Linked DNA regions of Homo sapiens. The protein of the gene in region 2 purifies or fractionates together with the protein of the main gene of each other region. This does not show direct contact. Each region holds a gene or a part of one and is shown on either strand. Other genes may lie near its edges.

Evidence for each region.
Region 1: the proteins of PPIE (region 2) and BUD31 purify together in Homo sapiens (affinity purification with mass spectrometry; 4 studies listed by BioGRID and IntAct, with this or other methods). This does not show direct contact.
Region 3: the proteins of PPIE (region 2) and SYF2 purify together in Homo sapiens (affinity purification with mass spectrometry; 4 studies listed by BioGRID and IntAct, with this or other methods). This does not show direct contact.
Region 4: the proteins of PPIE (region 2) and ZNF830 purify together in Homo sapiens (affinity purification with mass spectrometry; 5 studies listed by BioGRID and IntAct, with this or other methods). This does not show direct contact.

What each region holds. Positions count from the first base shown.
Region 1 is NC_000007.14:99,404,859-99,411,987, reverse strand, and holds the start of BUD31 (protein BUD31 homolog), read right to left. Parts: upstream 3,020-7,129; 5' UTR 2,743-3,019; exon of another isoform or gene 2,724-2,742; intron 1,955-2,723; 5' UTR 1,819-1,954; intron 925-1,818; 5' UTR 896-924; coding exon 802-895; intron 44-801; exon of another isoform or gene 5-43; intron 1-4. Other genes in the region: PDAP1 (28 kDa heat- and acid-stable phosphoprotein), read left to right, coding at 3,440-3,452, 7,035-7,126. UniProt on the Homo sapiens protein: Involved in the pre-mRNA splicing process. May play a role as regulator of AR transcriptional activity; may increase AR transcriptional activity.
Region 2 is NC_000001.11:39,748,866-39,755,888, reverse strand, and holds part of PPIE (peptidyl-prolyl cis-trans isomerase E), read right to left. Parts: intron 6,987-7,023; coding exon 6,801-6,986; intron 2,980-6,800; coding exon 2,837-2,979; intron 2,603-2,836; coding exon 2,534-2,602; 3' UTR 1-2,533. UniProt on the Homo sapiens protein: Involved in pre-mRNA splicing as component of the spliceosome. Combines RNA-binding and PPIase activities.
Region 3 is NC_000001.11:25,229,485-25,236,940, forward strand, and holds the start of SYF2 (pre-mRNA-splicing factor SYF2), read right to left. Parts: upstream 3,019-7,456; 5' UTR 2,984-3,018; coding exon 2,960-2,983; intron 2,728-2,959; coding exon 2,620-2,727; intron 1-2,619. UniProt on the Homo sapiens protein: Involved in pre-mRNA splicing as component of the spliceosome.
Region 4 is NC_000017.11:34,956,971-34,964,279, reverse strand, and holds ZNF830 (zinc finger protein 830), read right to left. Parts: upstream 2,741-7,309; 5' UTR 2,714-2,740; coding exon 1,595-2,713; 3' UTR 503-1,594; downstream 1-502. Other genes in the region: CCT6B (T-complex protein 1 subunit zeta-2), read left to right, coding at 2,887-3,023, 4,630-4,693, 5,586-5,720.

The DNA.
Region 1 (7,129 bases), on a different chromosome or scaffold from region 2:
ATACCTGTAATCCCATCACTTTGGGAGGCCGAGGTGGGTGGATCACTTGAGGCCAGGAGTTCGAGACCAGCCTGGCCAACATGGAGAAACCCATCTCTACTAAAAATACAAAAATTAGCCGGGCATGGTGGCGCATGCCTGTAATCCAAATTACTCGAGAGGCTGAGAGGCAGGAAAATCACTTGAACACGGGAGGCAGAGGTTGCAGTGAGCCGAGATCACGCCACTGCACTGCAGCCTGGAAGACAGAGCAAGACTCCAACTCAAAAAATAAAAATAAAAAAGTCAATTGGTAAGTGGCCACACTGTGATCATATAAGGCCAACAGATGCTTGTGGCTTCAGATAAAATTTCCAAAGACAGCATAGGACACGGGTTCACAAAGCAGGATCACACGCCATTTACAAGGAAGTGACAGAAAACAGATGCGGCAAAGACTAATCGATGATACTGAAAAGGAATAGCACTTCCAAGTAAATATATTTTGTATGATTTTAAATATATATCTAACCAAAATAGTAAATAACTATAGGTAGACTATTTGATCTATATTTCATAACCTTTTATATTCGAGTTGGCAAAAACAAAAACAAAAAAAAACACCTTTTCTGAGGACCTTTTCATTAATGTTATCTTATTTTCGGGCACTTACAGTATTTCCCCAAGTTCATAAGCAAACACAACATGTCAGTGTTAGTAGACCACTCTCTTTTTATATTTGCATTTATGCCTGTCCCCTGGGGGCATCTAAGCCTGTGACCCTTGGACCCAGCCCACCCAGACAGGAACTCCCCTACTCACCTTCTCTCATCTTTTGATCTAATTCATCCAGTGTTGGCTCAATCAACTCCCAGCCATCTGGGGGTGCTTTCCGGCTTCTTTTGACTTTAGGCATTTTCCTTCCACAGGATAATCTGCAAAGATCTGGGGGAAAAAAATGAATTGGTTTCTGAGTCTCAAATCCCCAAAGGCCTTTGCCAGCCATTATTTCGGTACAGGCTGACTTCCTTGAGTCAGCATAGGGTCACAGCTATGGGACAGGGCTCAGCACCCAGACTGTGTTCAAATCCTGGCTCTGCTACTTACCCGCTGTGATCTTCAGAAAGGTACTTAACCTTCCTAAGCCTCTGTTTCCTCATCTGTAAAATGGGGATAATGGAAGCTACCTTATGTGGTCATTGCAAAGACTTCATTAGAATTGTATCTATCATGCCTGGTGTATAATGTGTGCCTAAGAGACATTTGCTGTTGTCATTAGCTAACTTCAACTAAAAGCTTAACCCTATACTGGATGTTGGGAACACAGAACAAAAGTTAAGCCTTTGCCCCTTAGAAGGTGACATTTTAGCAAAGAGACAGACAAGAGAAAAAGCAATTACAATAGAGTATAAGGAGGGCTGTGACTCGGGGAGCCATGGGGGTGAGTATTTAAAAAGGCAAAGATGGAAGGTCAGGCACGGTGGCTCATGCCTGTAATTCTGGTCTTGGCCAGCACCTTGGGAGGCTGAGATGGGAGGATCACTTGAGCCCAGGAATTTGAGACCAGTCTGAGCAATGAGGTGAAACCCTATCTCTACCAAAAAAAAAAAAAAATCAAAAAAATTAACTGAGCATGGTGGTGGGTGCCTGTGGTCTGAGCTACACGGAAGGCTGAGGCAAGAGGATCACTTGAGCCCAGGAGGTTGAAAGTCTTCAGTTAGCCATGTTCACACTACTGCACTCCAGCCTAAGTGACGGAGTGAGACCATGTCTCAATAACAAACAAAACAAAACAAAACATAAAATAAAAAGGGAAAGATGACTGTAAAATCAAAGTACCTTAGGATGTGCTTTCCAAGAGTATAGACAGCAGAAAGATCTCTCGTCTCTGCAGTTGCAGGCTTGGATTCTTGTTCAGCTCTAAAAAATTATTCTGTGACTTTCAGGTCACCTTCCCTCTCTGGTCCTGTTTCTTCTGTAAAATGAGGGCAGTGGATTGGCTGATTGCCAAGGTCTCTTTCACACCAAACAACATATTACATAAAGTCAGGTAGTTCCCATACAAGAGGCCGATCCCAATCTAAATAGCAAAGCGTTTTTCAAACCACACAGCATTTCCTTGCTGCCAGAGAGAACCCAGGTTAAGTATTTACCTTTCAGCATAACAGATTCATCTCTCTCAAATTCATTCAGTCACTCCCTTCTGTACTGACACTTTACAAAGACCCACCCCCCCCCCGCCCACAGAGCCTCCTCTCATGAACTCTCTAAAACAACCATATAGAGGAGGAATCAAACTCTATAAGGTAGAATCAGGGTCACACAGCTGAGAATTTGCAAAACCTGACTCTGGAGGGCTCCTGACTCCCAAATCAGTGGTCTTCGCACTAGTCTCCCCTACGCTGAAGCTAAAAATAGGTGAATTCTGGTCTCGGCCCCAAGGCGCATAGTCTGTGACAAGAGAATGATCGCTTTTCTACGACCCAGGGAAATTCGAGGGCCCTGATCCAGCCTGGAAGTCAGAAGAGGCCTCTCGGAGGTGAAAATGGTAGGCGGTAACCAGATCGAGGAGAAAGAGGACGTAGGAGGTAATCAGATCGAGAAGAAAGATGTGCCGGGAGGTGTAAGAGAGATTGGGGCGCTAGGGGAAGGAGGCGAGGAGGAGCGAAGGAAGATAGTGCAGGATTGTAGGGAAAACTCATAAAAAGGACAGCATCTGAACCCAGCTTAGAAAAACAATCAGAACACAGAAGACGTTCCTACCAGAGGAAACGGCGCGAGAATCCTAGAGGAAAACCCCCAAATCTACCGTCCCCTCAGAAGAACGAACGTGGCGCCGCCTCCTCTCGGGAGCTCTCTCCGGCCTCAAGGTCCAAAGCCCGAACACATCCCAGTGGCTGGCTGAGAGTCCAGCCACTCATATCTCCCTCCAGGACGGTGCAGACCACCGGTCTCCCGCCTCAGCCGTTGCCAAGGTAATCGAGAACAGAGGGAAAACACATACCGGAAGCTCCTGGAGCTTGGGTAGCTGCTTCTCGACAGAAGGCTTCCGCTCTTCAGGCGATCTCTAAGGCATGAGGTCCTTGCGGAGCCCCGCCCTACCCGCGCGGAGATTGCGTCATCTTAGGTGTCCTCAGCAATGCCTGTATAGAATTCCAGAGCCGCTGTTGCCATTTGCCCTCACTTCCGGTGGGTGGCAGGCAGGGCCACGCGTCTTCCCGAACGGAGAGACTAGGGGCGTTGTTGCCTGGCAGCAGACGGGCAAGCCTGGACTTAGGCGGCGCGCAGGACGGTCCGACTTCGTGCGGAGGCCTCCCTGAGGTCCGGGTCCTTGCGGCCACTGCGGCCACTGAAGCGGCGGCGGCGGCTGGCCCAGGAGGAAGAAGTCGAGCCCAAGCTATTTCCGGTTCCGGTGTCAGTTCGAGGCGCCGCCGCCGCCGCCGCAGCCGCCGGAGCCGCAATGCCTAAAGGAGGTGAGGGGCGGGCGCCGGTGGCCCGCAGGCCTGGAGGGGCGGCCCAGGTCCGGCTTCCGCTGTCCCCTCAGCCCGTGCGCGTCTCTGAGAGCAGCGCAGAGGGAGGCTGTCCGCACCGGCTGAGAGCCAGGCCTGGGCCTCGACGCCCAATTGTCCCGATGGGGAAACTGAGGACTGTGGTGTCCCAGAGTCACTCCGTCAGTGGTCTGAGGAGTTTCGGAAGCTCTGGGTCCTCGCCGGCCTAGAAAGCCGGATCTAGGATGCGCTTCTCCGGGTCTAGGGGTTCTGGAATTTATCCCACTCTTTGGCTGGCTAGGAACTGAGTCACCGCGTCCCGCGCTTGTGCCGGGCCCGCCTGCCTCTCGCGTAAAACGTGGGCTTTTTCTGGCTTCGGTTCAGCCAGGCCTGCCTAGGAGGACTTAAGGAGATGCCCATGAGCCTTCCAGACCTGGTTTCGACTCCCCCGTTCGGTAGCGGCTCGGTGTGTTCCTTTGAGCCAGTCGCTCCACCTCCTGTGTCTCCGTTTTCTCATTTGCCAATGGGAATAACGATTGTACCTACCTCTTAGTACTGTTGGGAGGCTTCAACTAGGTAATCCACGTGGAGTGCGCAGTACAGTGCCAGGCAGTCGTTAAAAGTGCCCAGTGAAGCAGTAACTATTCTTATTTTTAAGGCTTTGCCAGCTCTTGATCTTGTAAGTAGGTTCATGACTGCCCAGTCCATTGTAGCCCGTCCTCTATCTTCTAGCCCGTTCTCTATCCTGTTTCCCCCTTTAGAATCGATAGTCCCCAGTTTGAATCCCAGCTATGTCACGTCTAATTCTGTGGCCCTGAACAAGTTAACCTCTTCCTCATCTGAAACACTGGGCTAATCCTTAGCTTGTTGAATTGGGGCCGGGGTGGTAAAATTATAGCGCTCATAAAGTGCCTGGCCACCTCCTGGCACAGAACAAATATATTTGTGTTGGTAGCTCATGTGTTATATTGGTTAATGCACTCAACCCACAGAAACATCTGCCTGTAGCGTTTTCAAACCTAAATCGCTTCCTGACTCCAGAGATAATTGGGCATTACAGAGCTAAATGTGTTTAAACCTAGCTCTCTACTGATTTATTCTGTGGCTGGAAAAGTCTCTCTGCTATTGTTCCCCAGTCCCTTCATCTGTAAAAGGAGGTTGCTGAATGAGCCATCCTCCCTCCGAAGTTTTACTTAATGGATACTTTGGGTAAAGGTTGGAGGTTACAACGATAAAACCTTAAATATGAATTCATAGCTAAATGGTCTTTGGGCTTGTGAAAAGCTTTTTGGGGTAGACAAGGTTTACATTTTCTTGGGTTAATCTGAAAACCACAAAAAACCGTGAAGGTGTTAAAAGTATCAAACTCCCTAAGAGCAAAGGACCAACGCTTGTTTCCATTATGTTAAGTGCAAATCGTTTTTTAAAGTCTTGAAGAGTCTACTATAAAATTACTGTGGACCAAGCTAAGGTCAGGGTCCCATAGCCAAGTGCATGAGAGGAGAGCCTATAGTAATCAATTTTGAGTTGTTACTGTTGCCTGGTGTATTAAGAGAGCAAGAAAGGGTGTTGGTTTTTTTCTTGGCACACTTGCTCTCTCACAATAGGACTTTAATAAGCATAGACTTAGACACCCCTGGGAACCTAGGTAGTCATTAAAAATGGGTGGTGTGATCTTTAGCAGCCCAATTATGGCTTTGCAGCTGCTGTAAGGAATCAGAGGAGGCCAGTATCTCTGCTACCGCCTCTGGAGTGCAGAGCAACTCTGGCTGATTACAGAGTCTCTGCTCACAGAGACAGACTATGGAAATCAGGTGGGCCTCAGCTTCCTGTGTGGAAGTTGAGGCCACAGCCACCCTTGCATACTTGGGGACCAGCAGAGGGGGATGCCACCTTGCTTTAAAACTGGCTGATGGCTTAAGCAAGGGTCAGCCTGGTGTTCTGGCTGAAGAGGGTCAGACTATAAAACTGACACTTTAACTGCTAGTCACATTTTTAACTTTTAGACTGTGTAGTCAGGTTTGTTTTCATCTGTACTTTGCCAGTCATTTCTTAGTCTAAGCACAAAGTTTTTGCCTGTAGGTTTGGGTTTCTTTTTTTTCCCTTAAGTATTCTCTTTTTGCCATACTACTAAGGTGAACACAAGGTATTTTATTGTGTTTCCAACATCTGCAGTAAATTGCTTATGTGCTCAGTGGTGCTTTTGTTGTTGTTTTTCCACCAAATACTAGATTAGAGGGAAAAGTAACGAACAGCGATTTTTTTATTTTTTTGAGACGGAGTCTCGCTCTGTGGCCCAGGCTGGAGTGCAGTGGCTCAATCTCGGCTACTGCAACCTCTGCCTCCTGGGTTCAAGCGATTCTCCTTTCTCAGCCTCCCAAGTAGCTGGGATTACAAACATGTGACACCATGCCCAGCTAATTTTTGTATTTTTAGTAGTGAGGGGGTTTCACCATGTTGACCAGGCTGGTCTTGAACTGGCCTCAAGTGATCTGCCCGCCTTGGCCTCCCAAAGTGCTGGGATTACAGGCATCAGCCACTGTGCCTGGATATTAGCGAACATTTTTGTAGTGCTTATTCAGTAGCAGGCACTGTTCCAGCAGCTTTCTGTATATTGATTAATTCATCTATCTTTGTGACAACCCTGTAAGGTAGGGACACAGATGAGGAAACTGAGACTGAGAGGTTAAATACCTGCCCAAAGTCATCAAGCCAGTAAGCGTAGAACCTGGGAGTTGGACTCTAAACTTCGTGGTGTTTCGCAGTCTGCTTTGGTCTAAGTCTCCTGGTCTATGAAATGGGACCAGCTATCACCCCTGTACCATAGGTTTGTTCCGAGGATCAACTGTGCCCCTGGCTGGCTGGGCGCGGTGGCTCACACCTGTAATCCCAGCACTTTGGGAGGCTGAGGTGGGCAGATCACGAGGTCAAGAGATCAAGACCATTCTAGCCAACCAACATGGTTAAACCCCATCTCTACTAAAAATAAATAAATAAGCTGGGCATAGTGGTGCACGCCTGTAGTCCCAGCTACTCGGGAGGCTGAGGCAGGAGAATCACTTCAACCAGGGTGGTGGAGGTTGCGGTGAGCCGAGATTGCGCCACTGCACTCCAGCTTGGGTGACAGAGCGAGACTCCGTCTCAAAAAAAAAAAAAAAAAAGTGCCCCTGGCTGTGACAGAACATCGTGTAAAAAGCCCTTATAGTGACGGCAGGGATGTAAGTGGTACATGTTTCTGTGGTTGCATCTGAGTCCACTATGCTTGGATTGTAAGGGACCAGGGGATGTAGCAAGTCATTGCAGTGCACCGTCCGCCATGTTCTCCCCTCCGGTCTTCTGTGTAGGAGCCAGCATTTAGTACACAGTTTGGTGATGCATCAGATGGTCACGAGTTGCTTCCTGCGTGCCTTTGAACACATGAGGGTGGCGGAGGTGTCGGTTTGGGTGGTGCTGGGTGAGGGGTAGGTGAGGCCTCCGATGAGAGTACTCCAAGCAGGACACAGCCCTCTGGGGGTCAGAGCAGTCAAGGCAGCTGCTTCCGCTCACCTAAACTGCGGGTCTCTGCAGGAAGAAAGGGAGGCCACAAAGGCCGGGCGAGGCAGTATACAAGCCCTGAGGAGATCGACGCGCAGCTGCAGGCTGAGAAGCAGAAGGCCAGGGTG
Region 2 (7,023 bases):
CTCTGCCAAACCACCCTGTGTGACCTTTGGCAGTCACGCCAATAAAGCCTCAGTTTACCTGTGCAGGGTTCCAGTGTGCATTCAATAACATCTGTGAACACCCAGGAGGAACACTGGGAGAGGAGTCCACACCCAATGGCTCCAAACCTGCTGAGCTTTCAGAACTGCCCACTGGCCTCCACCTCCCCAGAGTATCAGGGAGGAACAGAGTGACAAGGTTGTCACAGGAGTCTGTCCTTTTATGGGAGGCTGGCTGTGCTTTTTCTACACACTCTCTCCTGGTTCTCGTCCAAGCACTGAAGTCAGTGCTATCATCCCCAGCTTCATAGATGCCTGCCTAACACCTGTGACTGACCTCTGATGGCCATTATTTGCACTCAGAGAAGGGGCTGTGCTTTGAGGGAGGGTCTCTTTTGGAAGCTCCATAGGGGTGAGGGGTAACCATGTAGTATATCCCAGCTACATGGAGCCTGAACTCAGTCAACTGTAGCAGCTGGAGCTCACAAAGTCCAGTCGGCACATGGGAGCCAGAGGTAGGGCAGAATGCCACCATCCCTCAGCAAGAGCTATCCTAGGGTCATGAGGACCACCTAGCCTCTCCTGCCTCCTGGCTCATCCAGATCTCAATCCAAGATGCAAAAGCTCAGCTCAGTGGATTCTGAATGGTCTGAGTGACCCAACCCACAGGAGGTGTCCAACAGCTACAGGACTCAGTCCCTGCTAAAAGCCTTCAGCAGATGAGATTCTTTATAACCGCCTGGCTGACCAGCATCTGGAGGGGGAGTGGAGAGAAGCCAGCTCCAAGAAGTGGCTGCACACAGGAGAGCCAGACTGTGAGCTCAGCAGGGGGTGGGACCATTTGTTCTCTTCAGTGGCTGGCAATCCTGTTTTGTAAAGGCTCAGATAGTAAGTATTTTAGGCCTTGGGACTGTGATGGTCTATTTTGTGTGTCAATTTGGCTAGGCCATGGTATCCAGTTTTTAGTCAAACACTAGTCTAGATGTTGCTGTGATGATGGTTTCTTTTTTTCAAGACAGGGTCTCCCTCTTGTCACCCAGGCTGGAGTACAGTGGCATGACCATGGCTGACTGCAGCCTCAACCTCCCAGGTTCAAGCGATCCTCCCACCTCAGCCTTCTGAGTAGCTGGGACTATAGGTGTGCACTACCATACCTGGCTTTTTTTTCTCCCCCTAGAGATGGGGGTCTCTACATTGCCCAGGCTGGTCTTGAACTCCTGGGCTCAAGTGATCCTCCTGCCTCAGCCTCCCAATAGTGGTGGAATTATAGGCATGAGCCACCATGCCTGGCCTATTTTTTAGATGGATTAATATTTAAGTCAGTAGAGAGTAAAGCAGATTACCCTCCATAATGTGGGTAGGCCTCATCCAATCAGTTGAAATTCTTAAGAGAAAAAAGACTGAGATCACTGGAGGAAGAATTCTGCTTCCAAACTGCCTCAGAGCTGAACTGCAACATCAGTTTTTTTCCTGAGTCTCCAGCCTGCTGGTCTGTTGTGCAGATTGCAGACTTGCCAGCTCCTACCACTGCTTGAGCCAGTTCCTTAAAATAAATCTCTTTCTACATATATACACACCCTATTGGTTCTGCTTCTCTAGAAAACCCTAATACAGGGACCATAGCCTGTATTGTGTCTATAGCCCCTTACGCACCTCTGCCACTGCAGTAAGAAACCACCATGGACAATATGTAAATAAATGGACGTGGCTGTGTTCCAATAAAACCTGATTCATAAAAACAGGCAGTGGGCTGGATTAGGCACATGTAGTTTGTTGGCTTCCTGTCTCCTGACAAATAGGCATAGTACTTGGCACAGAGAAGGCACTTTGAGTTATAAAAATTTCATTTTTTAAAATCTGTAGGGTGAAAGTGAACAAATAAACAAATGAACCACTGAGAGTACACTTGCTGGCTGTAAGGCCGGCAGCTGGGTTTAGGAGCAGAGGCAGCAGAAGACCGGAGCTTTCCAGTCTTTAATTTCCGTTGCCCTGACATCGATGCCTGGTGTGAAGATACATCACCTGACATCTAAGGGGATCGGCCCAAGGGAGGAAATGAAAGCTGTGAAAAAGATGCTCTGCTCTCCCCACTCACCAGCCTGCCTCAGAGGTCCAGCTTAGCCACAGACACAATCTCTGACAACTCCCAAGAACTAGCAGGAAGAGCAATATAAGAACTAGGGTTTATTTTAGCAAAGAAAACACGTAAGAGCCACACTGGTAGTCCCAGGAGAGGCCCAGCAGCAAATGCTGAGAAAAGCCAGTGGCTTTTTGCACAGCCTGCCCATGGTGGAGGGGAGCACCTGAGCTGGCTCCTGGGCCCACAGCTGTGCCTGGGAATAGTCCAGGCTGTGCCTGCAGAGGAGCTGCTCCAAGCAGACCCTGAGGAAGGGCACATATCCCAAATGCTGCTTGCTTCAAACAGGCACCCTCGGTGCTGCCTCCTCTGAGGCTGGCAGTTCCTTCCTGGATATGCAGGGTCAAGAGCGGAGGGGGAAGCAGAGAGAGTGCCGCCTCACACGTACTCCCCACAGTCGGCGATGATCACCTTCTGCTTTGGCTTCCCGTCCTTGCTGCCCTGGGCCTTTGTGGCAGAATAGAAGTGAGGGAGTAAGGCCGGAGACTAACAGTGGTTTAGGGATACCAACCCCTGCCTGCCCATTTGCCCACTTCCACCCCGGAACCTGGGCAGCAGCAGCCCCTCCCGCTGGACACAGCCCCTGGCCATCTCTCTCAGGCCACAGAGACTCTCCAGCCCTCACACAGGGCTGTGCTCCTAGGGCCTGGGTAAGGAGGAGGCCCATTCCTGGCCACATACCTCAATTTGCCGCAAGACATCTAGGCCTTCGGTGACCTCTCCAAACACCACATGCTTGCCATCCAGCCAGTCTGTCTTGTCACATGTCAGGAAGAACTGAGAGCCATTGGTGTTTGGGCCAGAGTTGGCCATGGATAGTAGACCTGAGGGAGAGAACAACCATCAGCTCCCCGAACCCTGGCTACCAGCCCTTAAAGGACGTCTGTGCAGGCTGTTGACAGCCCTTCAGCCAGTCAGGCTCAGACTCGGGGATGCACAGATCACATGCAAATGCGGCCACCTTATCTTGGATTCAGTTAATAGTCAGTGAAATGGTAAGTGAGGTGTTTCAATCACTTTATACTGGTCTGTTCTTTCATTAATTCATTTATTTAACAATTAAGTGTCTACTTGACAACCAGGTCCCTGTTAAGCCCTGGGAACACTGATGAGCAGAACATAGTCCAAGCTCTGGTGGAGCTCACAATCAGTGGAAAAGAGCCATTCAAAATGACAGCTATGACACAGTGAGGCCTGGTAACATGGACATTTGTCACGTAAGAGAATGTACATGTATATGTGTGTGTCTGTGTGTGTATGTGTACATGTATGTATGTGTGTGTGTGTCCACAATGACTCCTAAGTTTCTGATCAAGCGGCTAAGTGGATGGTGGAGTCATTTATTGAAACAGGGAAGAGGAGGAGGAAGAGTTTAGGGGAGAAGGCCAAGAGCTGTTTTAGACATGTAAAGTGTGAGATGCTCGTGGGATATCCAGTGAAGACAACAGGCAGGCAGTTGGACAGGAGTCTGGAGCTCAGGGAGCCATCAGCATGCAGATGCCAGTCTGCACAAACTTAACTCAGAGATACCGCTGAAAGCCCTGGGACCGGGTGTGACTGCTTAGGGCACTGCTTCTCAGTGGGGTTGGTGTCCTGTCCCTAGGAAACCTTTGGAAATCTGAATTTACTTTTTTTGAGATGGGGATCACTCTGTCACCCAGGCTGAGTACAGGAGTGCATCACAGCTCACTGTAGCCTCAATCTCTGGGGCACAAGCAATCCTCTCACCTCAACTCCCAAGCGGCTGAGACTACAGGCGTGCACCACCACACCTGGATAATTTTTTTATTCTTTTTTCAGTAGATATAGGGTCTCACTATGTTGCCCAGGCTGGTCTCGAACTCCTGAACTCACGTGATCCTCTGGCTTTGGGCTGCCACTTCAGACTCCCAAAGTGTTGGGATTACAGGCATGAGCCGCCGTGCCTGGCCTGAAAGTGTTTTTGACTGTCTGAAATATTGTGGGGGTGCTACTGGCATTTAGCAGGTGGGGGCCTGGAATGCTAGATGTTCTGCAATGTCTGGCACAATGAATTGTCTCATATCCTCTTGGCCCTTACAAACATCCTGCTAGAGGCTGGGCGCAGTGGCTAATGCTTGTAATCCCAGCACTCTGGGAGGCTGAAGTGGGAGGATCACTTGAAGCTAAGAGTTCCAGACTAGCCTGAGCAATATAATGAAACCCTGTCTCTACAAAAAACTTAAAAATTAGCCTGGCATTATGGATGGCGTGCACCTATAATCCCAGCTATTTGGGAGGCTGAGGCAGGACTGCTTGAGCTGGAGAGGTTGAGGCTGCAGTGAGCCGTCTTGCACCACTGCACTCCAGCCTGAGCAACAGAAAGAGACCCTGTCTCAAAAAAACAAAAACCAAACAACAACAAAACAACAAATATCCTGCCAGATATTGGTATAGGTAAAAAATGTGTTTACAGTTATCTGCACCTAAAACATAATTCCATTATACATATAAGCCCAAAGTTTTGGAGTGCTTTTGATTTTCCATGGAATCTTCTAGGAATGTAACTACTATGTAAATAAACAGATTATTCTTTACTTTGGACTCTAATCAACTTTATCTACCATTTCACAAAGCCGTATCACCAATAGCATCACTCCTAGTGGTATCCAGTTGACACTCCCGTCTGCATTTCTAACTGCTGCGTTTGAGTACAGGGGCAGACGCCTGAATAATTCACTTTGTGTTCTGACACAGCTGTGCTTAAGCATGTACATCTGGAAACATATTCGAGTATTATACAAATTCGTTTATTTCCTCTGATGTTCTTCCCTATTATAGTTACAGATGAATACTGATTTTTAAAATAACGATGTGGGTCAGTGGGCTATATCACCTACACATGTCAGTTCAGTATAGTAAAGAGGGGCCCTACAAACCACCAGTTAGAAAAACGGAGCACAGGGTAACAGGCTTCTGGAGAACCAAAGAATGGGCTCTGAGCCACTTCAGTGTTTAAGGGTCAGGAAAAGAAGGAGACAGCAAAGACAGAAAAAGCAGCCATCTAGGTAAAAGGAGACAAGAAGAGGCAGGAGTCCTGCCAGCCAAGTGAAGAAGGAGTCAAGGAGAACAGAGTTAGTACAGGCTGAGCATCCCAAATGTGAAAATCCAAAATCCAAAATGCCCCAAAATCTGAAACTTCACGAGCACTGATATGATACTCAAAGGAACTGCTCACTCGAGCATTTCAGATTTGAGATATTCAGATTTGGGATGCTCAACTGGTAAGTATAATGCAAATATTCCAAAATACAAAATACTTCTGGTCCCAAGCATTTCAGGAAAGGGACACTCAACCTGTAGTATGAAATGCTCCTGGGAGGTGGGATAACATCTGGGAGGTGGGATAAGATGATCGCCAAGAACTGGCTACTCGTATTTTTGGCAAGAGTGGTTTCAATGGCGAGATGGGACTAGAAGTCTGCCTAGAAGGGATTAGAGAAAACGCGAAGGCAGCAAGTCTGTACCATGTTTTCAAGAAGTTATGCTTTTACTTCTTGAAAAAAGATGGGGGACCAGGGGCATGGGTGATAGCTGGAGAGGGAACAAGAGTACAAGGATGAAGTTTGTTTTTTTTTTTCCGAGACGGAGTTTCGCTCTTGTTGCCCAGGCTGGAGTGCAATGGTGCGATCTTGGCTCATCACAACCTCCGCCTCCCAGGTTCAAGTGATTCTCCTGCCTCAGCCTTCCGAGCAGCTAGGATTACAGGCACGCGCCACCACGCCCGGCTAATTTTATATTTTTAGTAGAGATGGGGTTTCTCCATGTTAGTTAGGCTGGCCTCCAACTCCTGACCTCAGGTGATCCGCCTGCCTCTGCCTCCCAAAATGCTGGGATTACAGGACTAAGCCACTGCACCCGGCAACCGGATGAAGATTTTTTTTAAAGGTTGATAACTGCATGCTTTCATGCTAATGGACTGATCTAGCAGAGCAGGGGAAATGGATTACAAGAAGGGGACAACTTTAGAAGCCATGTTCCTAAGTAGAGGAGAGGGACAGGATCCAGTCCACAGGTGGAGAGGCTGGCCTAGGAGAGACAGCTCATCCCCTGTAATTGGAAGAAAGAGCATGCACGAGTGGAGAGATGCAGGAGGTGAAGCATTAGATGAGGTGGGAAGGTGATGATATGAGGGCTTCAGAAGTGAAGACGGGCATGGACACATCATCTCCGGTTGGGACTGAGCATCAAGTAGGGAAATCTGGTCAGGTTGGCAAGGGTCCCCTTAAGAACTATAGTTATAAATTTCAAGTGGGATTGTTCAGTACAATTCTGTGTTTTTTCTCTAGTTGCTGGGGGACTAACCACCGAGATTTTACTGAGTAAATCTGATGGTGAGGGCAGGGAGAGCAGTGGGGTTGAGAGCATAAGAGCCTGCAACAGCAGACCACAGAATCCAAGCGGGGCTAATAGGAATTGTGGACACGGTTGGGGGATGAACAGTACCTGAATGTCAACAAGCCAACTCCACCCTAGCAAGGCTGCATGGTTCTCCTATGTCTGGTGGCTGGGTCTCCTCCAGACTCTTAGTGTCCGCCAGCCAGAACTACAACCTGTCCTTCCATCCTGCCTGGCCATCCCACCCTTGCCCAGCCTCCCTCGTCACCACATGCCAACTGGCTCCTACCTGGTCCCGTATGCTTGAGGATAAAGTTTTCATCATCGAACTTCTTCCCATAGATGGACTTGCCCCCAGTGCCATTGTGGTTTGTGAAATCACCGCCCTGGCACATGAACTGGGGGATGATGCGGTGGAAGCTGCTTCCCTTAAAGCCAAAGCCCTTTTCATGAGTGCACAGGCAGCGGAAATTCTCTGGAATTGAGAAAGGAAAAAGCGCTGGGGTTAAAAA
Region 3 (7,456 bases), about 15 Mb from region 2:
ATTAAATTGGCCAGGTGCAGTGGATCACGCTTGTAATCCTAGCACTTTGGGAGGCTGAGGCAGGTGGATCACCTGAGGTCAGAAGTTCAAGACCAGGCTGGCCAACATGGTGAAACCCCGTCTCTACTAAAAATACAAAAATTAGCGAGGCATGGTGGTGCACACCTGTAATCCTAGCTACTCGGGAGGCTGAGGCAGGAGATTCACTTGAACCCAGGAGGCAGAGGTTGCAGTCAGCTGAGATTGCACTACTGCACTACAGCCTGGGTGACAGAGCGAGACTCCATCTCAAAAAAAAAAAAAAAAATTACGTCACATGATGTGAAAGACACTCTTTCTTTTTTTTTTTTGAGACAGAGTCTCACTCTGTCACCCAAGCTGGAGTACAGTGGAGCCATCTCAGCTCATTTCAACTTTCGCCTCTGGGGTTCAAACAATTCTCATGCCTCAGCCTCCCGAGTAGCTGGGGTTACAAGCGTGTGCCACAATGCCTGGCTTATTTTTTTGTATTTTTGGTAGAAACGTGGTTTTGCAGTTTGGCCAGGCTGGTCTCAAACTCCTGGCCTCAAGTGATCTGCCCGCCTGGACCTCCCAAAGTGCTGGGATTACAGGCATGTGCCACCACACCAGGCCTCAATTATCTTTTAATCCTAATTCAAGAAAAAAGCCTCAATTTGGGTTAGAGGATTTAAAACCTATCTTAATGCCTCTAATGCTTTCCAAGTTCCCCTCCTTTTAAATATTTTCACAGTTTGCATTGACAAATGAAAAATGAAAGGAATTTTCCATTTGAAGTATCATTGAAGAGTCTTTTTTTTTTTTTGGAGCTGGGGTAGCAGGGAGAAGAGTCTATTTTTAAATAAACTTAATTGCATAAAGCAAAATGAGTGTATCGTCTTAAGGAAAACTTGAGTTAGACATTCCTTAGGTCATAAGCTGGTGGCAGTTTGTCCAGGAAGCCCCGCCTCCTAATTTCCAGACATGTGTTCCTTACACAATCACTCTAAATATTTAAGCATGTCTTTTTAATTGTTTATTAGATTAACTTTCCCTCGGCAAAGAGAGATACTCCTCCCAACTACCATCCCTAGTATATTCTTGGCCCTGGAAAAGCCCTGCAATTAAAGACGCCAAGAACATACCTACGGTCAACAAAGTTGAGTCTGTTGCACAGAAGAGAGCAAACCACGGGGAACCGTGGGCATTTGAGTGACAGGGTGTTAGGAAGGGCTTGTTCCAGGATTTGGGTTTGTATCAGGTGACTGAGGGGAGGGTTAAGGATGTGGATTGGGTACTGTCAGAAAGCAGGGGCTTTCTACAATTAGGTATCTTAGATTTTTTTTTTTTTTTTTTTTGAGATGGAGTCTCGCTCTGTCGCCCAGGCTGGAGTGCAGTGGTGTGATCTCGACTCACTGTAAGCTCCGACTCTCGGGCTCATGCCATTCTCCTGCCTCAGCCTCCCGTGTAGCCCGCCAGCACGCCCGGCTAATTTTTTCTATTTTTAGTAGAGACGGGGTTTCACCGTGTTAGCCAGGATGGTCTTGATCTCCTGACCTTGTGATCCGCCCTCCTCGGCCTCCCAAAGTGCTGGGATTACAGGCGTGAGCCACCGCACCCGGCCCAGTATCTTACATTTTTATATAGGAGGCAGAAGTAACGGAGTGAGACTAATGCTGTATTTGTTAATAACAGTCACTGGTGTTAGTCAGAAGAAAGAAATATGTGGTCATTCTTGTAATTTGAAAAGTCTTCTTTGTTTTGTCTCACTACAACAGTCAGAGTGATTTTGGGATTTTGTGAAACCATGGCCTAGCTGTCAGGTCACTCCATGGTGAAACAGGGGCTGCTTTTCTCTTTCTCTGCTCCAACTGCAGCAAGCTATTTGCTGGACTCTTATCCCTAATACAAATTCTCTTTCTTTGAATTTGTTCCCTTTGCTTGGATATCTCTTTCTCTAACTCCTTTAGTTGTCTGGCTTTCAAACAGTAGTTTAGGTGTCACCTACTACATGAGGCACCCCCTGGAGACCCACAAACTGCATTCCTCTCTCCTCCTCTGCACCTCCAGGGCACTTAAACATCAGATTCCCTATCAACTGGCTGAACTACCACACTGTAGACTTTCAAAAGTTTGCCATTTTTTTTATTTTCTTTTTATTCTTTTCCCCCAGAAGTCCCAAAAACAGATGATTATTTTCTTTTCACTCAAACAGATTCTGACAGAAGATTATTATTTTTTAAAGTGAACCAGGTCTCTTACTGACACTAGACAAGTTTCTTCCTGTCTCTAGCTCTACATATTTCCCTAGGTAAAATGAAGAATTTGTTGGAATCACGGAGCAGGGAGGTTGTTAGTAATGGAGACTCCCAAACCTAACCCAGATACATTAAATTGGATGTGGGTGGGAGAGGGGCTGGAGTGAACAGTTATATTTTCAAATGTTCTCAGAATGATCCCAATGTGCTGCCAGGGTTGAGTACCACCGAACAGAGCTTTCCTCTCAGATGATCCTGCTCTGTTGGTCTGTCAGACGCAGTGGTGTGGCTTCCTCGTCCCCTCTACAAAAGCGCACAGGCTTGGCCAGATGACGGATCTAAGCCGGCCTCCAAGACTACTCACCCGCATCAGGTGCAGCTCCCGGAATTTGCGCAGTCTCTGTTCGCGCTTCTGAGCGGCCAGCTCCGCCGCCGCAGCGAGGGACCCCTCCTCCGCGCTGTCCACCAGCACCTGCGACAAGGAGAACTGGCTTCAGGCAGAGCCGGCTCAGCTTCTCCCAGGACTGCCCAGGCCGAGTCCCCGCCGGTCCCCACAGGCTGGGCCTAGGGCCTCCACCGCCGACTTGACCCCACAGTGTCTGAGCCTCCCTGAAGCGAAACTAGACTTCGCCTCCACCTCTCTCCAGGCCGCTCCCCGGAACCCTCACCAACAAAACCCCCGGTGTACGGTGGGTGGAACTCACCTCGGATGCAGCTATAGCCGCCATCACAACCTTTCTCTCTTCCCACTTCCGGCAACAAGATAGAGCACTTCCGTCAACCTTCAGACAAACGGGCCGATACGTACGAATGGGCTACCATAAGCCCCGCCCCTTCCGGGAGGTCTCCGGAAGTTGGGACCCTTTTAGCTATGAAATATTTTGGATTGCGTAGGGTCTTGCGCAGCCGCGAAAAGTAGCGTGGGCCAGGACAGCGGGAGGTAAGTCGCCAAGAAAAGGGTTGGGAAGAGCTCAGAATCGGACGGCTAGGAAGAAATGACCAAAAGGAGCCTGATAGCCCCCTATTCTGCACGCTGTTCCTGGAAACCGCCTTTGCAAAGACAGTGAGAGAAATCTAACATGGCTCACTCCATCTTGCTTCTAGCCTCGCAGGCCGGCTGTCTTCGCTCATTCCTGGGCATAAACCAAGCTAACCATGGGAGAATTTATAGTTTAACTTTTAAGCAAGGATGATCATAGTCCCTTCCTTAAACAGGGCCCCTCCTTGTTTGGGGGCTGAAACTGCCTTTATAAAACTAATGAAAGACCGGGAGGTTAGGATTATGAGGGGAGAATTCTGCTAAAATGTAGTAAACGATAACCAGCCATTGTTTCGGAGGACATCGGATGTGTAACTTCCCCAATTATTCCTGTAGATAACGTTATCGTAGCACCTAAGATTGGTCTTTTGAGGCATTTTTCAGACTTTCGCATTCTGGCAACTAACTGACCCCACCCAGACTCGTGACCCATGACCCAACCGCTTCTTCTGTCCCACTCCTCCCCCAAGAGGCGGACTCAGCTGTTGAGGAGTGTAGTCCACACCCCTGTGATTGCATCTCCAACCAATCAGCAGCATCCATTCCCTAGTGCCCTGCCCACACCAAACTATGAAATACCCTAACCTCTGAGCTGACCCTTCAGGAAAACTTACTTGAGTGGTAACCCTTCTTCCCTGAGGCCAGCCTCAGGTTAATACAACTGTATACTGCAGTAGCACTTTTCAGTGAATTGGTTTTGTCTGCAGTAAGCAGGAAAAACCTGCAGTGCCATTCATTCCCATGAGTGGAAAGTTCTTTCCATTTAGAGCTTAAGGTGTTGTCACTTTCTCCAAGAAGCAGGTCTTGCCCTTGGCCTGGTGTGGTGGTTCATGGCTGCAATCCCAGCACATTGCGGGGCGGAGGCGGGAGGATTGCTTGAGCCCAGGAGTTCAAGACCAGCCTGGACAACAAAGTAAGAATCAGTCTCTAAATTAAAAAATAAAAGTAATTTTTTTTTGTTTTTTTGTTTTGAGACAGAGTCTTGCACTATCACCCAGGCTGGAGTGCAGTGGCACCGATCTCGGCTTACTGCAACGTCCGGCTCCCGGGTTCAGACGATTCTCCTGCCTCAGCTTCCCGAGTAGCTGGGATTACGGGTGCCTGCCACCATGCCCAGCTAATTTTTGTATTTTTAGTAGAGATAGGGTTTCACCATGTTGGCCAGGCTGGTCTCGAACTCCTGACCTCATGATCTGCCCACCTCAGCCTCCCAAAGTGCCGGGATTACAGGCATGAGCCACTGTGCCTGGCCATAAAAATAAATTTTTAAAAATAGAAGCAGGTCTTCCCTGACTACCCTGTCTCACTTTTAGTACTGTCATTTGACACTATTTTAATTCTCTCCAATTGCATAAGTTTTATTTTTGTCTGTTGATTTTCTATTTTTCTCATCAGCGTTATTACTGGAGAACAGCAGAGTCCACCCATCTTGTTTACTCTTACATGCTCAGCAGAGAGGCAATGCCAGAATTACTAACAGTGCTAAAGTTACTAAGATAAGTAAGGTGCTGGATATAAGAGGAATATATGAAAATTATTTTTTTCTGCACTAACAACTACTAGTTAGATACAGAAATGAAAAAGTAGGCCAGGTGCAGTGGCTCATGCCTGTAATCTCAGTACTTTGGGAGGCCGAGGCGGGCAGATCACGAGGTCAGGAGATCAAGACCATCCTGGCTAACACGGTGAAACCCCATCTCTACTAAAAATACAAAAAATTAGCCGGGCGTGGTGGCGAGCGCCTGTAGTCCCAGCTACTCAGGAGGCTGAGGCAGGAGAATGGCGGGAATCCGGCAGGCAGAGCTTGCAGTGAGCCGAGATTGCGCCACTGCACTCCAGCCTGGGCAACAGAGCGAGACTCTGTCTCAAAAAACCAAAAAAAAAAAGAAAAGTAATCCCTAAAATGAAAAGATACCTAGGTACAAAATTTAAATGGTAACATAAAAATAAAAGATAATTTGAAGTAAATTAAATCTGAATAAATGGTGGATAACCTATTTTCTGGTTGGAAGACTTAATATTATAAAAACAATATCACAAAGGAGTATCGCAAATGAGTTTATAAATGTCATGTTATTCCCATCAGAACCTCAGTGGGTCATTGTTTTTGTTTTTTGGAACTGGAAAATAATGTGGCAAAAATCTTAGAAGTTCAATAACACATTGTGTTGATGAGACCGAAGAAAAATGAATCCTACACATATTGCTGGTAGGACTAAAAATTGATTGAACCCCTAGGGAAGACAATTTGGCAATATCTGTAAAAATTAAGGCATTTACTCTTTGACTCAGCTATCATAATTCTGGGAATTTATGTTACAGATACAATTACACATTGAAAGGAAAATAAATCTTGGGGCCCCAAAATCACTAAGCCAAAGGGAAAAGTCAAGCTGGGAACTGCTTAGGGCAAACCTATCTCCCATTCTATACCTGAAAAAGCCACTAAGATAAAAAAGCTACCTACCTTCCTCACAGGGAATGTCCTTGTGGACAAAGGACAGAGAGAGGCAGGCGGATCACCTGAGGTCAGGAATTCAAGACCAGCCTGGCCTACACGGTGAAACCCCGTCTCTACTAAAAATACAAAAATTAGCCGGGCATGGTGGTGCGCAGCTGTATTCCCAGCTACTAAGGAGGCTGAGGTGGGAGAACTGCTAGAACCTGGGAGGCAGAGGTTGCAGTGAGCCAAGATCGCTCCACTGCACTCCAGCCTGGGCAACAAAGGGAGACTCCATCTCAAAAAAAAAAAGCCATCATCTGTTTTGGGGGTGTAATAAGATATATGTACTTCTGAACCATGTAAGTATTTCGGCCGGGCGCCTTGGCTCACACATGTAATCCCAGCACTTTGTAAGGCCGAGGCAGGCAGATCACCTGAGGTCAGGAGTTCGAGGCCAGCCTGGTCAACATGGCAAAACCCCGTCTCTACAAAAAATAAAAAAATAAAAAAATTTAGCCTGGCGTGGTGGCGGGCACCTGTAATTCCAGCTACTCTGGAGGCTGAGGCAGGAGAATTGCTTGAACCGGGGAGGTGGAGGTTGCAGTAAGCCGAGATCACGCCATTGCACTCCAGCCTGGGCAACAAGAGTGAAACTCCGTCTCAAAAAATAAATAAAAAATAAGTGTGTCAATTCTAAAATTAAAAAAAATTTAAAAGTTTGCATGGAAAAACTAAGAATAGTCAACAGTATTTCTGAATAAAAAATAGAATCGCGGCTGGGCGCGGTGGTTCACACCTGTAATCCCAGCACTTTGGGAGGCCAAGGCGGGTGGATCACGAGGTCAGGAGATCAAGACTATCCTGGCTAACATGGTGAAACCTCGTCTCTACTAAAAAATTAGCTGGGCATGGTGGCGGGCGCCTGTAGTCCCAGCTACTCAGGAGGCTGAGGCAGGAGAATGGCGTGAACCCGGGAGGCGGAGCTTGCAGTGAGCCCAGATTGTGCCACTGCACTCCTGGGAGACACAGATTCCGTCTCAAAAAAAAAAAAAAAAAAACCACACAATTACATGTGGTTTTGTGCCTCTTGGATTTCAGTTATTGGGGAAGAGTAGTGCTTACATCCTTCTTATTTTACTGTTATTAAGAATCCTGGCTGGCACGGTGGCTCAAGCCTGTAATCCCAGCACTTTGGGAGGCCAAGGCAGGAGAATCCTTTGAGCGCAGGAGTCCAAGACCAGCCCTGGCAACATAGCGAGACCTCATCTCTACGCATGGTAGCCTGCCCCCGTAGTCCCAGCTACTCGAGAGGCTGAGGTGAGAGGATTGCTTGAGCCTGGGAGGTCAAGGCTGCAGTGAGCCCTGATCACACCACTGCACTTCAGCCTGGGTGACAGAGCGAGACCCTGTCTTGAAAAAAAAAAAAAAAAATCCTATTCCTGCCAGTAAAATTGGGCTCTATATTACCAATTTGTTTATATTGCAAATTAAAATCTGCAAGTCTGGACTTAAAAAAATGGAAATGTTTGTAATTAACTAAAGTTTCTGGAAGTGATAAGCAGTATAGAAAGGAAAGATGTGTGGTAAAAATTGCTCAACTGATTTTGTAAGGATTTATTAAGAGTATTCACAGGATTTTCAACATTGCTTTTCTGTGCAATATGATAATTTGTGTGATTTTTAAAAACTGGGCTGGCTACAGTGGCTCACGCCTGTAAT
Region 4 (7,309 bases), on a different chromosome or scaffold from region 2:
AACGGCGTGAACCTGGGAGGTGGAGCTTGCAGTGAGCCGAGTTTCCGCCACTGCACTCCAGACTGGGCGACAGACCGAGACTCCGTCTCAAAACAAACAAACAAAAAAAACAAACAACAAAAGAATTTAGCTATTCCTATGACATGCTTTCACTTCTATTCCTTTTCTCCCAATCCTCAGCTAATCAGTCTTGTCACCTTGCTTTTGAAAATATAGTTTTCAAATAGCTCCTAGCTTCCTTCTACCCTCCGTGTTCATTCCATTCTATATACTGTTAATAATGTCCCATGATACTTCTTTGCAGATGTAATTCTTTGCTCAAAACCTCCATTTTCATATGAACTTCATCAAAAATTTTCACTTAGCATTCAAGGCTTTTCAAACCTTGTCTCTTGGTACTCCTCTCCATAAAAAAAGACTTTAGGGAAACTAGATTGAGTTAATATATGTAAAGCACTTAGAACCATGCCTGGCCCATACTAAGAAATATATAGGTCTTAGCTATTATTATTATTGCTCACTTTTATTTGAATATGCTGTATGCATTTCAACTCCAGAACACTGCTAATTCCCTTTTCCTATTTGAGTACCTCAATCTCTAAAGGAAGGAGTGATTTAAACTATCAATGACCAGCAAGAGCCAATTGTTACTGCTGGAAAGACAACTTAAATATTCTTTCTACAATAGATAGGACCTGCAAACAAGGAACCCTAATTTACCACCAAATAACAAAATTTAAGGCTGGATGAAATAAATAAAAGATAATATTTTTTCCTTCATTCAAGAAACAGCAAATTTATGGAATGTGTTATTTAAAGAAAAAGAAAAAACCTGAAAAACATAAATGGGTTCTGGATTTAGGGCAGTTACTCTCTAACCCTGGCATATATTAGAATAACCTGGGTGCTTAAAAAACACAGTTGCCTGGGCCCAATCCCAGATTTATTGAAGGGGAAGGCCTCAGACACTTTAATTATTTTAATGCTTCATAGGTGACTCTCATGTGCAACCACATCTGACCATCATTGGTTTGGTCATGTTTGGCATATAGTTTTCTTATGTTTTTAAAATAAAGCACACTAAGAGAACTGATTAACCTACAATGACTTATGTGTTTATGAAGTGTTCTAAAAAACCATACAAAAACCAAAGAAACAAGAAAACAAACCTTTTCAACTTGATGTAGGGTTCAGAAGATACATACATTCCAAATACCACAGTAAGCATTCATCTGAAAGTTTGCCGGTTGGTCTTTCTATTAATTAAAAAAATTCAAAACAGAATACAGATTTAACTATGTACAATATTTACAACTTACAGATTTTACAACGAAATTATACAGTTAAGTCTGTCGTGGAAATGTTGGCATTTTGGTATATAACACTTCAGAAATTTCAAAAACAACTTTACCTCAAAAACATGTTACACAAATTTTCCAAAGTGCTGTAGCTCACTGGCTCATTTTATCTCAACAATCCAGTTTAGCAATCCAGGTACCCAAATCTTGAGGCATGAAGTAACCGCTATACTACTGAGAGACAGCACTTTTTATACAACAGCAGAGGCTGTTAGAAACCTTGGGTCTTTAAAACCCTATAACAATGCCCCTTTCACCCTCCAATCCTGAGACAACAAATCCTGTAGTTCCCCCTCATCATCGCTGTCAGCATTCTCTTCTTCCTTTTTCTGCAGTTCTTTTATGGTCAGGATTTCTTTAAGTTTATTTTTTATTTCATCCTGGCGATTCCGTAGCTTTTCCACCCGTCGGTAACACTCTATCTGCTCATCGATCTCCCCAATCTGGCGGTCCAACCGTCCCTCCTCATCCTCTTCGGCAACTATGGCTTCGGAAATAGTGTTGACCTGCCTCATGGCTTTTTGGAATTCGTCCCACTCTTTGTCCATCTGATCTTTTGGAGCATCAACCTTTCGTACTCTTGCATCTACCTCAGGGTCGTCAAAAAAACCTTCCGGTAACGCTTCCGCGGTGTTTTCTCTCCTTTCCACCACTTTTTCATGTATTTCTGCTTTCTCAATTGACCCTGAATGAGGAATTATGGGGGCCTTGGGAGGATTAGTACTAAAGAAATCGTTTGGCAGCACACTACTTGTTACCTCCCGTGAAGAGGAAACTGAGTGCTCCTTGCCCTGTGCGTCGGAGAGCGGCTTGCTGGCGTCCCCCCTTTTTCTTTCTCCATCTCCTTCCTCCTCCTCTTCCTCCTCCTCCTCATCTTCATAATCGGGGAGTAAACTGAGTCCTGAAGGCTTACTGGGAGTCGCTCTAATGAACTCCTTTCCTATTTTGTCAAAGTTGGTGGTCCACGCAGATGTGGAGGGCTGTACCTGAGGCACCAAGGTGGCCTTCGCTCTCTTGACATCTTGGTCGTCTGCGTCCGGCGCTTTCCTCTTGACGGAATGAGGCGCTGAACTGGCGGACGAACCCTGGCTGGCTTCCTTCGCGCCTTTCAGCTCGGCCACTTTCTCTCGGTGCTGCTTTCCCAGGACGTGAGTCTGCCACAGGAGCTCGCTCTTAACCGGAGTGTTACACAGGGCACAACTCAGCTGCCCCAAACGGTTGTACTTCGCGAATGGAGATTCTATCCGTTTCCGACTGGTGCTCAGACGCTGCTTCTCCTTCATTAACCGCCGCAATTCTTCCTGATTTATCACTCGCTTCCCTGCCGGAGTCCGGGCGGAGGCGGAGGACGCCATCTTGGCGACCAGACCCAAAACGATTCTGGTTTCCGTCGGGCGAGGCATGATAACGTCACTTCCTGTAAGGGCGATGATTGGCCGAGGCTCAAGAGAGCGTGGCGTCGCATTGCCGTTTTTGCTCAGAATCGCGACTAAGGCTTTTTTTTTTTCTCCCTCTGAACGGTTAGGCTATGGCTGCGATAAAGGCCGTCAACTCCAAGGCTGAGGTGGCGCGGGCCCGGGCAGCTTTGGCTGTCAATATATGCGCCGCCCGAGGGCTGCAGGATGTGCTGCGGACCAACTTGGGTCCTAAAGGCACCATGAAAATGTGAGACAGCGGTTGGAGCGGCCATTACGCGGCTAGGGGCCCGTTGGTGTCCTGTCGCCCTCTGAGGCAGGCGTCCGCGTAGCGCTGTGGATGTTCTTGCGAGCTTGATTTCCCTCATTCTCATCCCTGCTCTGGGGGTATTTCTCGCCTGGTGCAGGTGGAGGAGAAAAGCCTCCCCTAGTAGAGGGCCCCGGGAGTGAAGCTGTGGCGCTTCCCCGACCCCCGACTTGTCGTCAAGGTTCATATGCAGTTAGAAAGTCAGTTAATTTAGTGTCTCATTGGAAACAAAGCATTTAACTCCTCTGCTCCTTAAGACTGTATACCCTTGGTCCATAAATTCAACAAGTAGTTTTGTTTTTTGTATGGCAATGTATTGTAGTGGAGAGGACACAGGCTTTGGAGCCAGGAAGGCATGGGGTCAAATCCAAGTTCTACTTGAATACCCCGTGTCTATGGTTGTTCAGATCTATTCATCTTTTCAGTATATATTAAGCACCCTTTTCTATAGACAAGAGTGAGGAAAAGAGACCAGTGAGGGCAAAAGGGTATAAGAGGAGAGACACATCCTCATAGTAATGAACAAAATAATATTAATGGTAAAATAAGTCACTTAGGTACCAGTTGTTGGGACACAGAAATGATCAAGATAACGGTTTCTGTTCTTAAGGAGATGTGGTAGAGACGGATGTGGTAGAGTAGGATGTGCTAATTATATATAGATGCATATAATTATGCTGAAGAAAGGGACTGATGGCAGAAGGAAAAGCATCTTAAGTAACATGTTTGATCAGTCTTGAAAGAAGAATAAGACTTCACTAGTTGGAAGAGGGAGTAAAGGCCTGGGCAAAGTAATTTCAGGAATAAGAAAGACCAATGGTGCAAATCCAACAGAAACGAAACAAAACATGGTATATTAAGGGAACCAGAAGATTTGCTTGTGGAAAAGTAGATGAGGCAGGGAAGATATTGGGAAAGGTCAAGTATGTCATTGCTGTGTTTGGATTTTAACTTGAAAATGATGGAAAACATAAAAATCATTGGAGGACTTTTGATCAGGGAACTGACTGAATCACGTTGCCTTTTAGAAAGAAAAATGTGTGGAGGGTATATTTAAGTTTGGAGATATCCGGATGCCATCCAAAGTAGAGATGATAACAGTGGAGATGGAGAGAAGGTGGCAGATTCAAGAGATATTTAGGTAGTAGAATTGATAGAACTTGGTGATCTAATAAATGCAGGGATGAGGGAAACTAAGTTGAGTGACTGAATGAATGAAAACATTCACCAAAATTAAAACCTGCAGGAAATTTGCGAATTTGTGCTTTGTAGACTTCCAAGTATTCTTTGACCAAACCACAGTTCGTAACTCATCAAGTGCTTTTATCTTTAAACCTGTAAATAGTCCATTTGGAATGAAATCTCCATAATCTGTCCATCTGGGGAGAAATGATTCTGTGAGCTGCAAATGGTGGTAATTACCATGGCATATTCCCATGGTACAGTGGAAGTTTTCCGAGCCCAGTTCCCTCTATTAAGGATAATGGAGTGGCAAGCACTGGGAATGTCTTCCTACCACATGAAGTTAATATCATTCTTCTCTGAACAGGCTTGTTTCTGGTGCAGGTGACATCAAACTCACCAAAGATGGCAATGTGCTGCTCGATGAGATGGTGAGCTGATGCTGCTGACTTTAATAAACCTTAATAAGCCTTAATTAGAAGCATAGTAGAACTTGTGTATCTTTAAGCCAAGGCTGTGAGCTAAATACTGCAGTCTTGAGATATGCTGAAGACTGTTGAATTAGACCTCAATAAAAAAATTTTTTTGGCCGGGTGTGGTAGCTCACTCCTGTAATCCCAACACTTTGGGAGGCTGAGGTGGCCAAATTGCTTGAGCCCAGGAGTTCAAGACCAGGCTGGGCAACATGGTGAAAACCGTCTCTACAAAAAAAAAAAAAAAAAAAAATTTTGCTCAGTGTGGTGACATACGCCTATAGTCCCAGCTACTCTGGAGGCTGAGGTGAGAGGATCACTTGAGCCCAGGAGGCCAAGGCTGCAGTGAATGAGATTGTGCCATTGCACTCCAGCCTGAGTGGCAGAGTGAAACCCTGTCTCAAAAAAAAAAAAAAAAAAAGTTTTTTTTTTTGGCTGTTTCCAAGTCTTTGTATACTTATACATACTTTGTATACTTAGGCATACTTATAAATCAATAATATCTTTTAAGGGCACTGCCTTATGTTCTTTGTAATTATGGAAAAATAAAAATATCCTTTGCAAGTTTAATACATGTATTCATTTTGAGATTGAATGATTTAATCTTATTTTAGAAATGTCATTGCATTCTGAAGCAAAGACTTTTATGAAATGTTCAGGCCTCATTACCTGTCACTTTTAAAATTTTGGACTTGACATTTAGGTATTGATAATACAAAACTTGTAAACTTGTAGAATGAAGCTTATTTCATTTTTTAATTTTGCTACTGACCCCTAGGTTATCTTGCTTTTGGTGACCTACTTCCTTATCTCATCCTGTCTTTTTAAATCTGTTGCTTGCTTTTTCCAGCAAATTCAACATCCAACAGCTTCCTTGATAGCAAAAGTAGCAACAGCTCAGGATGACGTCACAGGAGATGGTACTACTTCAAATGTTCTAATTATTGGAGAGTTATTAAAACAAGCTGACCTGTACATTTCTGAGGTATTAGAATTTCACAGTTTATATGTTATTTTGAATGGCAAATTATTTTTTTAACTAGTAAAATGGTTGAGTTTTAGACAGTTAATTTTGTTTTAATTAATTAATTAATTAATTTTGAGATGGAGTCTCACTGTGTCGCCCAGGCTGGAGTGCAGTGGCAGAATCTTGGCTCACTGCAACCTCCGCCTCCCAGGTTCAATCAATTCTCCTGCTTCAGCTTCCCGAGTAGCTGGGATTACAGGCATGCGCCATCATGCCTGGCTAATGTTTGTATTTTTTTTAGAGACAGGGTTTCACCATCATGGCCAGCCTGGTCTTGAGCTCCTGACCTCAGGTGATCCACCTGCCTGGGCCTCCCAGAGTGCTGGGATTACAGGCATGAGCCACCGTGCCTGGTCTAGACAGTTAATTTTAATTAAGATATTCTTGGACAATTATAAATGGAAATAATAATGAACTTTGTTGGCCAAAATAATGCCTTTCGTTGGAATTATATACCTCTTTTAAAAATGAAATATTTAACGGACCTAAAAAAGTAAAAAATTACCCATGTATCCATGGGTAATTAAGAAAGAAAACACCATAGATAAAGTTGAAACCAAATTATGCACCTTTATAAAACCACTGGAGAAAAATTATTGAAGGTTTTACTTATTGTGAATTTACCTTCCTTTCTAGTTTCATTTTCTTTATAAATCATCTACTTCAGCCAGACTCCTCCGTTCACTGGCCTCTGAAAACATCATGTACATTTTTACCTTTCTCTAATTAAGTATCTCTTTTCTCCATATCTGAATGTTTTCTCTCTTTCAGGGACCATTTCAGCAAAGAGTAACCTAGTCAAAATGATTCTCTGTGTTTCGTTTAGTATTGGGAATTTTCTATTAATTCAGTACTTGCAACTTAGGATGCTTTTGGCTGTAAACAACTTGACTAAAACTCACTTGAACAATAAGGAAATGATTATCTCCCATAATAGAAAATTGAGAGATAAGGGAGACTGTCAGGTTGTGTGATAACAAAATTCAGTCATCAAGTACACAGGTTCTTTGTCTCTTACCTCTTCCACTCACAGTGCTGTTTCATCCTAAGAGTATTTCCATCTTGAAAGTAAGAGGCCAGGTGCGGTGGCTCACACCTGTAATCCCAGCACTTTGGGAGGCCGAGGCAGGTGGATCACCTGAGGTCGGGAGTTCGAGACCAGCCTGACCAACGTGGAGAAACCCTGTCTCTGCTAAAAATACAAAATTAGCCAGGCGTGTTGGTGCACGCCTGTGATCCCAGCTACTCAGGAGGCTGAGGCAGGAGAATTGCTTGAACCCAGGAGGTGGAGATTGCAGTGAGCCAAGATTGTGCCATCATACTCTAGCCTGGGCAACAAGAGTGAAACTCCATCTCAAAAAAAAAAAAAAAAAATGGAAAGAAAAAGGAAAGAAAAAGAAAGTAAGACTGGCTGGGCACAGTGGCTCATGCTTGTAATCCCAGCACTTTGGGAGGCTGAGGCAGGAGGATCACTTGAGCCCAGGAATTTGAGACCAGCCTGGGCAACATAGTGAGACCCTGTCTTTAGAAATAATAAAAAAAAATTA